2 linked regions of the Homo sapiens genome follow. The protein of the gene in region 2 interacts with the protein of the main gene of each other region in a biochemical or structural test. Each region holds a gene or a part of one and is shown on either strand. Other genes may lie near its edges.

Region 1 (3,814 bases), on a different chromosome or scaffold from region 2:
CCACTGTGACAGAGGGTGAGGGGCTGAAGTGAGGGAGAGGAAACCACACCTCAGAAGACAAAGCAGACTTAGAGAACCTGGGGTGCTTTGGGGATCACAGGTGGTGTAGCTTGTGCTGTGGAGGAGGGCGGCAGCATGCTGGAAGAAGAGGCTGCGGCATTAAGCAAGAAACAGCCTACAAGGGCCTGGTCTGCTCTGTCTACCCATTCTCTACTGCCTTGTTTCTTTTAATATGAAGTGGCTTATGAATTTAATGCAAACACTTAAAATCAAATATACAAGGAATCAGGGTTTTCTCTACATGTAAAAGAGCGTCACTGAAGAACTTAGGTTGAATGATATCATAATCCAATTTCTGTATTAGACAAATCCCCCTGGATTTTTCCAGCATCCAGGTTGGAAAGCCTGGAAGCTGACTGCCTTCTAAGAAGGAGACCCAGCAACTTCAGCTACAGAGGAAGTTAGACCCTGAACGAGAAGAAGCAATTCAACGTTGTGGTAAAGACTCTGGGCTCTTGCGTCAGAGAGGTAAGAGATTCAACCCTGACTCTGAGCAACTCACCTCAGCCTCTCTGGGCCTTTATAAAGTAAGAATTCTAATCCATACCTATATTTTGAAAGGTCATTGTGACAATCCATGCAGAGAGCTTAATGCAGTGCCAGGCACTGTATGAGCTCAATAAATGTTAGATATTATTATAAATTGGTGGTATGGGACAGATGCAAGAAACACATCAAAGGTGAAGCTGACCAAACTCAGTGACCAACTATGGGTGAGACTGGGGCAGGCACTGAGGCAAAACTAAGGGTGAGTATTTCTAAGATTCACACTGACTTATCGATGCACTATGTATCCACTGAGATTAGGAAGCTGAGGTGGGGCGGTCTATCATGGAAACTTCCAGAAGAGGGAACTAGAGCCATTTACATCCTATCGCCTCTAACAGATACCCTAAACATTAACCTAAGATAAGGGACAAGAAGGAAAGAGTACATTTCTCTCCCAGGAGGAATTCTGAGAAAATAGCCTTAAATACAGACTGTTCTATGGAGAATAAACTGGCATTTGTGCACATGATTCAACCCATAACCTCAGGAGTTGTTACTAAAACTTGCAACTTTACATTTCAGTGTACACATAACAAATTGTATTTCAGTTTCTCATCAACTCATACACTTAAACAAATCATTTTAATCATAAGAAGTTCAAACTAACAAAACCTAAAACCTATTCAGGAATCAACTTACTTCTCATGGACACATATTGTACATTATCTTCTAAATTAATCCTTATTTTTGATGGCTGAAAAAAAAGATAAAAAATTTAACTTAGTGATTTTAAAACAACAATGCAAACAAATAGCATTTTACTCAATAGTATAAAGGTCTGGGAATATGAATATGATAATTACTGGCTGGGCAGAGGCTCACGCCTGTAATCCCAGCACTTTGGGAGGCCGAGGCAGGTGCATCACTGAGGTGAGGAGTTCGAGACCAGCCTGGCCAACATGGTGAAACCCCATCTCGACTAAAAATACAAAAATTAGCCGGGCGTGGTGGCAGGCACCTGTAGTCCCAGCTACTTGGGAGGCTGTGGCAAGAGAATCGCTTGAATCTAGGAGGTGGAGGTTGCAGTGAGCCAAGATCATGCCACTGCACTCCAGCCTGGGCAACACAGCAAGACTCCGTCTCAAAAAACAAAACAAAACAAAAAAACATGCACACACACACAAAATATACTGAATACATCAGGTACGATCATTACAACACTGTCCCTGACTTGGGAAAGCTTAGTAGAGATAGAAGATCTATCTCAACCAACACATGCTCACTCCTTGCTATTATTAAGTACACGTGGTTCCCCAAAATTTGCTCACAAGCTTTCATAGGCAGCTATGCATTCCCATTATAATTAATGTAAAAACAGCAGCATTTCTAACAATGGAAAACAATGCATGCTGTGGGTAACTAGAAACTTTTGCGTTAGATAAAAAGTTTCTTTTAAATTCCTGAAACAACCAGGAAATTAGTAGAAGCTCCATTATCAATGCTCACCATTTTACCAGCTATTTAGAGGCTCTGAAAGTTTGCATAAAACTGGTAGTAACATTTAGAAACTGTTTTTCTGTAAAAAATAAATAAAATGAAACCAAACCTTAAAATGAAAGCCTATGAACAGAAACTCCTAGTAACATCAATGTTAATGTGCCTCCAGACAGGCTGTCATCAGGTTTAGCTCTTATCTAAGAAAAAACTGGCCATAAAGCAAAACTGGGGCAAGTGAATTCATAGGTACTCTAAGAAGAGAATCAACAGCAGTACTAGGGATACACCCAGACAGGGAACTCACAGAAGGATTCATGGCGAAGGCAGCCCTCAGCTGAGCCTAGCCCAGCAAGCCAGATTTGCCTGAATAAACAACTGTGGGGAGAGAAGAAAAAAGACAGGATTGTGGTACCGGAAATGAACAAAGGTGTGAAGATGTATATGGCATGGCATGTTTCTGGGAACCCACTGAAGTGGCCAGTGTGTAAGTGACTTGACTTTGAAGCTGGGAGGGCATGCTGGCACCACATAAAACTAATGCTAAAGAGTTTGGACTTTATGTCATAACCAGTAGAGAATCACCAAAGGTTTCTGAACCAGACTAGGACATAATTAAGTAAATGGTTTAGAAATATAAGTATGGCAGCAATATGGCAAAAGGACTGGGAAATGAGGAAGCCTGAAGGCAAGGTGAGCAGTTAAGAAGCTCTTTGTTTATACTGGTGTTAACAATATCCTCGGCACAATGATTTCCTTATCATCTATGACAAGATGATAGCATCTATTAACAAATCACCCCAATATGGAATACTCCCATTGAGACAGAATCCCACTGTAAAATTAATTTAGTTGTTAGAATTGAACACGTAGACCTGCTAGGGCATGCAACACTGGAGCTGGGAATGCTGGCCTTGGGGGTAGGGACTAGGTCTGGCCAGCTCTCTCAAACAGTGCTGACAATGGTGACTTGCAAACATGGTATCCAACAGTGAAACTCTGAAGCAGTCCTATCAAAGTCAGACATTAGACAAGTGTGACCAACTGCCATTGCTATTTTTACATTTAACCCCTCTGCTAATAGTATGAGACGGGCCAGCTACGGTAGCAAGATTCTTGAATGGAAAAAAAAAAAATCCATCCTTATCACATTGATTTGAAACACACATAAACAAACATCCTAAATCCTTATATATAAGCTCAGAGGGGCCTTGCTGCAGAGGTTCCCGTTCTTAATTCAGAGTAGCAGGCCCAGGACTTACACACTCTACTTACTGGCTCCCAAAGAGGCTGCCTCGCTAGCTATGCATTCTAGGGTGTCTTCTCTGCTACACACCTCCCTACCCATCTCATCTAGACAGTGGATCACAGGTTGGTACAGAAATAACACCTCAGTTAGGCATAATATGAAAAAAGATGGCTTTGTTTTCCCCACTCTTTGCTATCAATGCAGTTCCATTACATATTGGCTATACTGATGTATGTGGGAAAACAGTCTCCAAGAGCATTCATTTGTTTTTTTTTCCTCTTCAAATACAAAAACACTCTATCTTGGAGGAATCACAACAGTACCATTGCCCCTCAGTGGCAGACATCATATACAGACATATAGATAGAAACATAAGTCCAGGCGCGGTGGCTCATGCCTGTAATCCCAGGACTTTGGGAGGCGGGGTGGGGGGAGGAGATCACAAGGTCAGGAGTTCAAGACCAGCCTGGCCAACATAGTGAAATCCCCGTCTCTACTAAAAATACAAAAAATTAGCTGGGG
Region 2 (3,814 bases):
TTTATTCTTTGAATTTTATACCAGATGTTCCTATAATACCTCTTTTAAAGCATGTTTTAGGGGCAAAACTTTTTTCTTTTTTTTTTTTTTTGAGATGAAGTCTTGCTCTTGTCACCCAGGCTGGAGTGCAATGGCGTGATCTCGGCTCACTGCAACCTCCGCCTCCCGGGTTCAAGCGATTCTCCTTCTCAGCCTCGAGAGTAGCTGGGATTACAGGCGCCCGCCACCACGCCCAGCTAATTTCTGTATGTTTAGTAGAGACAGGGTTTTGCCATGTTGGCCAGACTGGTCTCGAACTCCTGACCTCAGGTGATCCACCCGCCTTGGCCTCCGGGATTACAGGCATGAGCCACCGTGCCCAGCAGGGGCAAAACTTTTAATTAACCTATAATTTTCTTTTTCTTTTTTTTTTTTTTTTTTTTTGAGACAGAGTCTCGCTCTGTCGCCCAGGCTGGAGTGCAGTGGCGTGATCTCTGCTCACTGCAAGCTCCGCCTCCCGAGTTCACGCCATTCTCCTAACTCAGCCTCCCCAGTAGCTGGGACTACAGGCGCCCACCACCATGCCTGGCTAATTTTTTGTATTTTTAGTGGAGAAGGGGTTTCACCCTCTTAGCCAGGATGGTCTCAATCTCCTGACCTTGTGATCCACCTGCCTCGGCCTCCCAAAGTGCTGGGATTACAGGCGTGAGCCACTGCGCCCGGCCCAACCTATAATTTTCTAATTTTTAATATCCCTTCAGAGTTTCTCTAACCTCATCCTATGTAGAAAAAAAAAATCCTGAAATATGAAAAGACTCTTGTAAAAACAAGCACGTCATCATAGATTTCTTCAACACTTAAACCTGAGGGGGCTAAACTGACAACCTTCTTAACCTCAAATGTAAAGTTGTTTCTTTATGAGGACAAAAGAAGGCCTGAGTCGCTGAATCCTGTTCCCAGAACTCACTCCTTCAAGCACTGAAGGAAACAGCAGTTTGTTGCTGCATCAGGTTCACCTCTTCAGGCCTGAACTTCACCATCCAGGTCTGTAAAAGGACACCTGGTGGTAGACCCTTAGAGGAGCTCATTGGTCCCCTCTTGGCATTAGCAGAGCCTCGTGACAGCATCACTCAAACGCCTCCATGGTGGGACGCACACAGTTCTCTTGGTCCCCAGCTCTCAATTTCAGGATTTCCCCATAAACTCACAGGACACAAACAGGCACCACAGAACGGCTTTCACAACCAAGGCACGTGAATACCGGGCAGTGACGTCCACAGCCACGTTCTCTGCACAGGGAGCTGACCAGGTCCAAGTGCCCGCACAGCCCAAGAGCGAGTTCAGATGCCCTGCATCTTTACCAATGGCAGGAGGAGCTTGGAGAGGCGAACGGGACCCCAGAAACAGCCCCACACGGGCTACATCCCGAAGTCTTACAGCAAAAGCATCCCTGTAATGTTTGATGAATTCATCATCTGCCTGCCTTCCCACTTACAAACTTTCATGACACTGGACAATCGTGTGTGACGACAGGATGTTCCGAGGTAGGGAGGGGAGAGGCAGAGCTCTGCCTGATCCCACCAAGGGTCATGCTGCCTGGGCAGGCAGGAAACTTGGCCGCAGGCTGAGATGCCAGTGCCAAGCCACACTCCCTCACCCAAGGGCCCTGCCAGCCCAGCTCTAGAACAACTTGAGCCCCTGCAGCTGGACTGACTCGTGACAAGGGTCTGTCCGACTCTAAGGAGGTGCCAAAGCACCTTCCAAGACTGAATCTGAGGACGGTTCCGAGCACCACCGGTACCTGCAACGGGAGCCCACAGATCTGCGGGTCAGAGCCACCCTGTTCAGGAACCAGAGGACAGCCTCCCTAGGCCCTGAGGCGGAGGGCCTGAGATGTTTCGAGGACAGTTCAGAAACTCAAAGAGTCTGTACGGACCTCCCAGGGTGTCTCCAAACTTAAGACAGGACTGCACCTGAGGCTATCACAGACCGGGTGGGCCAGGCATGGAAACAGACAGTCCCCACAGCAAGGAAATCCTCCCCATATTGCCAGGAGCAGCCCATAATCTTGATCATAAATTTCTGTAAGTGATCCATGCTATGCCAGCGCTCCTGCTGGGCAAGACCAGGCCTCAGGTTCCCGGAGCCAGCCAGGTGGCCGTATGGCAGCTGACTCCTGTTCTCCACATTCTCCCACTTAACAGAGTATAAACACAAATATTCCATTTGAATTTACCATTTTAATTCAAATAAGTGCAATAAAATAAAAAGTCCCTGAGCAAGACAACAGAAACCTAATCCTTCTCACCATTTCTCCAGCTGGGCCCACTCAAGGACCATCAAAGGCAGCCACCTTCTAGGCTGTTTCCTCCTTCTGTGACCCTACATCACCCACTCCAGCACCGCCACTCACTCTCCACCCACAACACCATCACCACACTCACTCTCCTCCAGTCTACCACCATCACCACTCACTGTCCACCCACAACACTACCATCACTCACTCTCCACCCACAACACCATCACCACACTCACTCTACCAACTCCACCATCACCACTCACTCTCCACCTACACCACCATCACCACTCTCTCTCCCCCAGTCCTACCACCACTCACTCTCCATCCAATCTACCATCACCACTCACTGTCCCCGAGTCTACCACACTCACTCTCCGTCCAATCTACCATCACCACTCACTCTCCACCACTCCAGCACCACCACTCACTCTCCATCAAGTCCACCACCACTCACTCTCTAACTACTACACCATCACTGATCACTCTCCTCACTGCTCCACAGTCATTTCCTACCCACTCTGCAAACTTTTCAGAGTACCTCTCTCCTCCCTCGTGTGTAGCTCCTTGCCATATAGACCTTCACACCCACTGCCTGTCAACTGCTGTTCAAAGATGACACCCCCAGAGGACTGACCTCATCCTCTTCTTTCTGCCCCTCACTCACATGGAGCCATTTGTGGCCTTTTCCCACCCGCTTGTCTCCCTGTGCCCTACTTGAGGTTGGAAGCTCCGGAGTTGTTTTTCTCTTGTGTTCTCTCCAGAACCTTCCAGCCTCAGGTCTTGGATGTCCTTGTTTCTCCTCCTCCATGGTGACTACCAGGGCCTAGCTCCAGCTCCCTGCATCCTGTGGCCCCTCATGGCCCTCTACAGAGGCCCCAGGGCACTTAGAAGCTGGAGGCCTGCCTCCTTCAACCCAAGTGGCACAGCTTTCCCCCAGCATAAAGGCTTTTGACATACACCTGTGGTTTTACTGCAGTACCAGTGCTTTTAAAAACCTAACTGGTGGGCTGGGCACAGCGGCTCACGCCTGTAATCCCAGCACTTTGGGAGGCCGAGGTGGGTGGATCCCCTGAGGTCAGGAGTTCAAGACAAGCCTGGCCAACATGGTGAAACCCCGTGTCTACTAACAAAAAATTAGCTGGGTGTGGTGGCGCGCCTGTAATCCCAGCTATTTGGGAGGCTGAGGAGAAGAACTGCTTGAACCCAGGAGGCCAAGGTCACAGTGAGCTGAGGTCGCGCCATTGCACTCTAGCCTGGGCAACAAGCAAAACTCCGTCTCAAAAAACAAAAACAAAACACCTAACTGGTTATCGATGTTCCCTTCTGCAAAAGCTGCCAACATCATCTTTTCAAAACTCAAATGTCACACCTCTACTTAAAAGAGTTAGCTAGGCCGGGCGCGGTGGCTCACGCCTGTAAGGCGGGTGGATTGTTGAGGTCAGGAGCTCGAGCCCAGCCTGGGCAACATGGTGAAACCCCATCTCTACTAAAAATACAAAAAAATTTGCCAGGCATGGTGGCACATGCCTGTAATCC

The links.
Region 1: the proteins of TFDP1 (region 2) and E2F6 form a complex in vitro, tested with the Homo sapiens proteins (one study listed by BioGRID).

Annotation. Positions count from the first base shown.
Region 1 is NC_000002.12:11,455,931-11,459,744, forward strand, and holds part of E2F6 (transcription factor E2F6), read right to left. Parts: intron 2,423-3,814; exon of another isoform or gene 2,363-2,422; coding exon of another isoform or gene 2,351-2,362; intron 1,304-2,350; coding exon 1,249-1,303; intron 1-1,248. UniProt on the Homo sapiens protein: Inhibitor of E2F-dependent transcription. Binds DNA cooperatively with DP proteins through the E2 recognition site, 5'-TTTC[CG]CGC-3'. Has a preference for the 5'-TTTCCCGC-3' E2F recognition site.
Region 2 is NC_000013.11:113,587,619-113,591,432, reverse strand, and holds part of TFDP1 (transcription factor Dp-1), read right to left. Parts: intron 1-3,814. UniProt on the Homo sapiens protein: Can stimulate E2F-dependent transcription.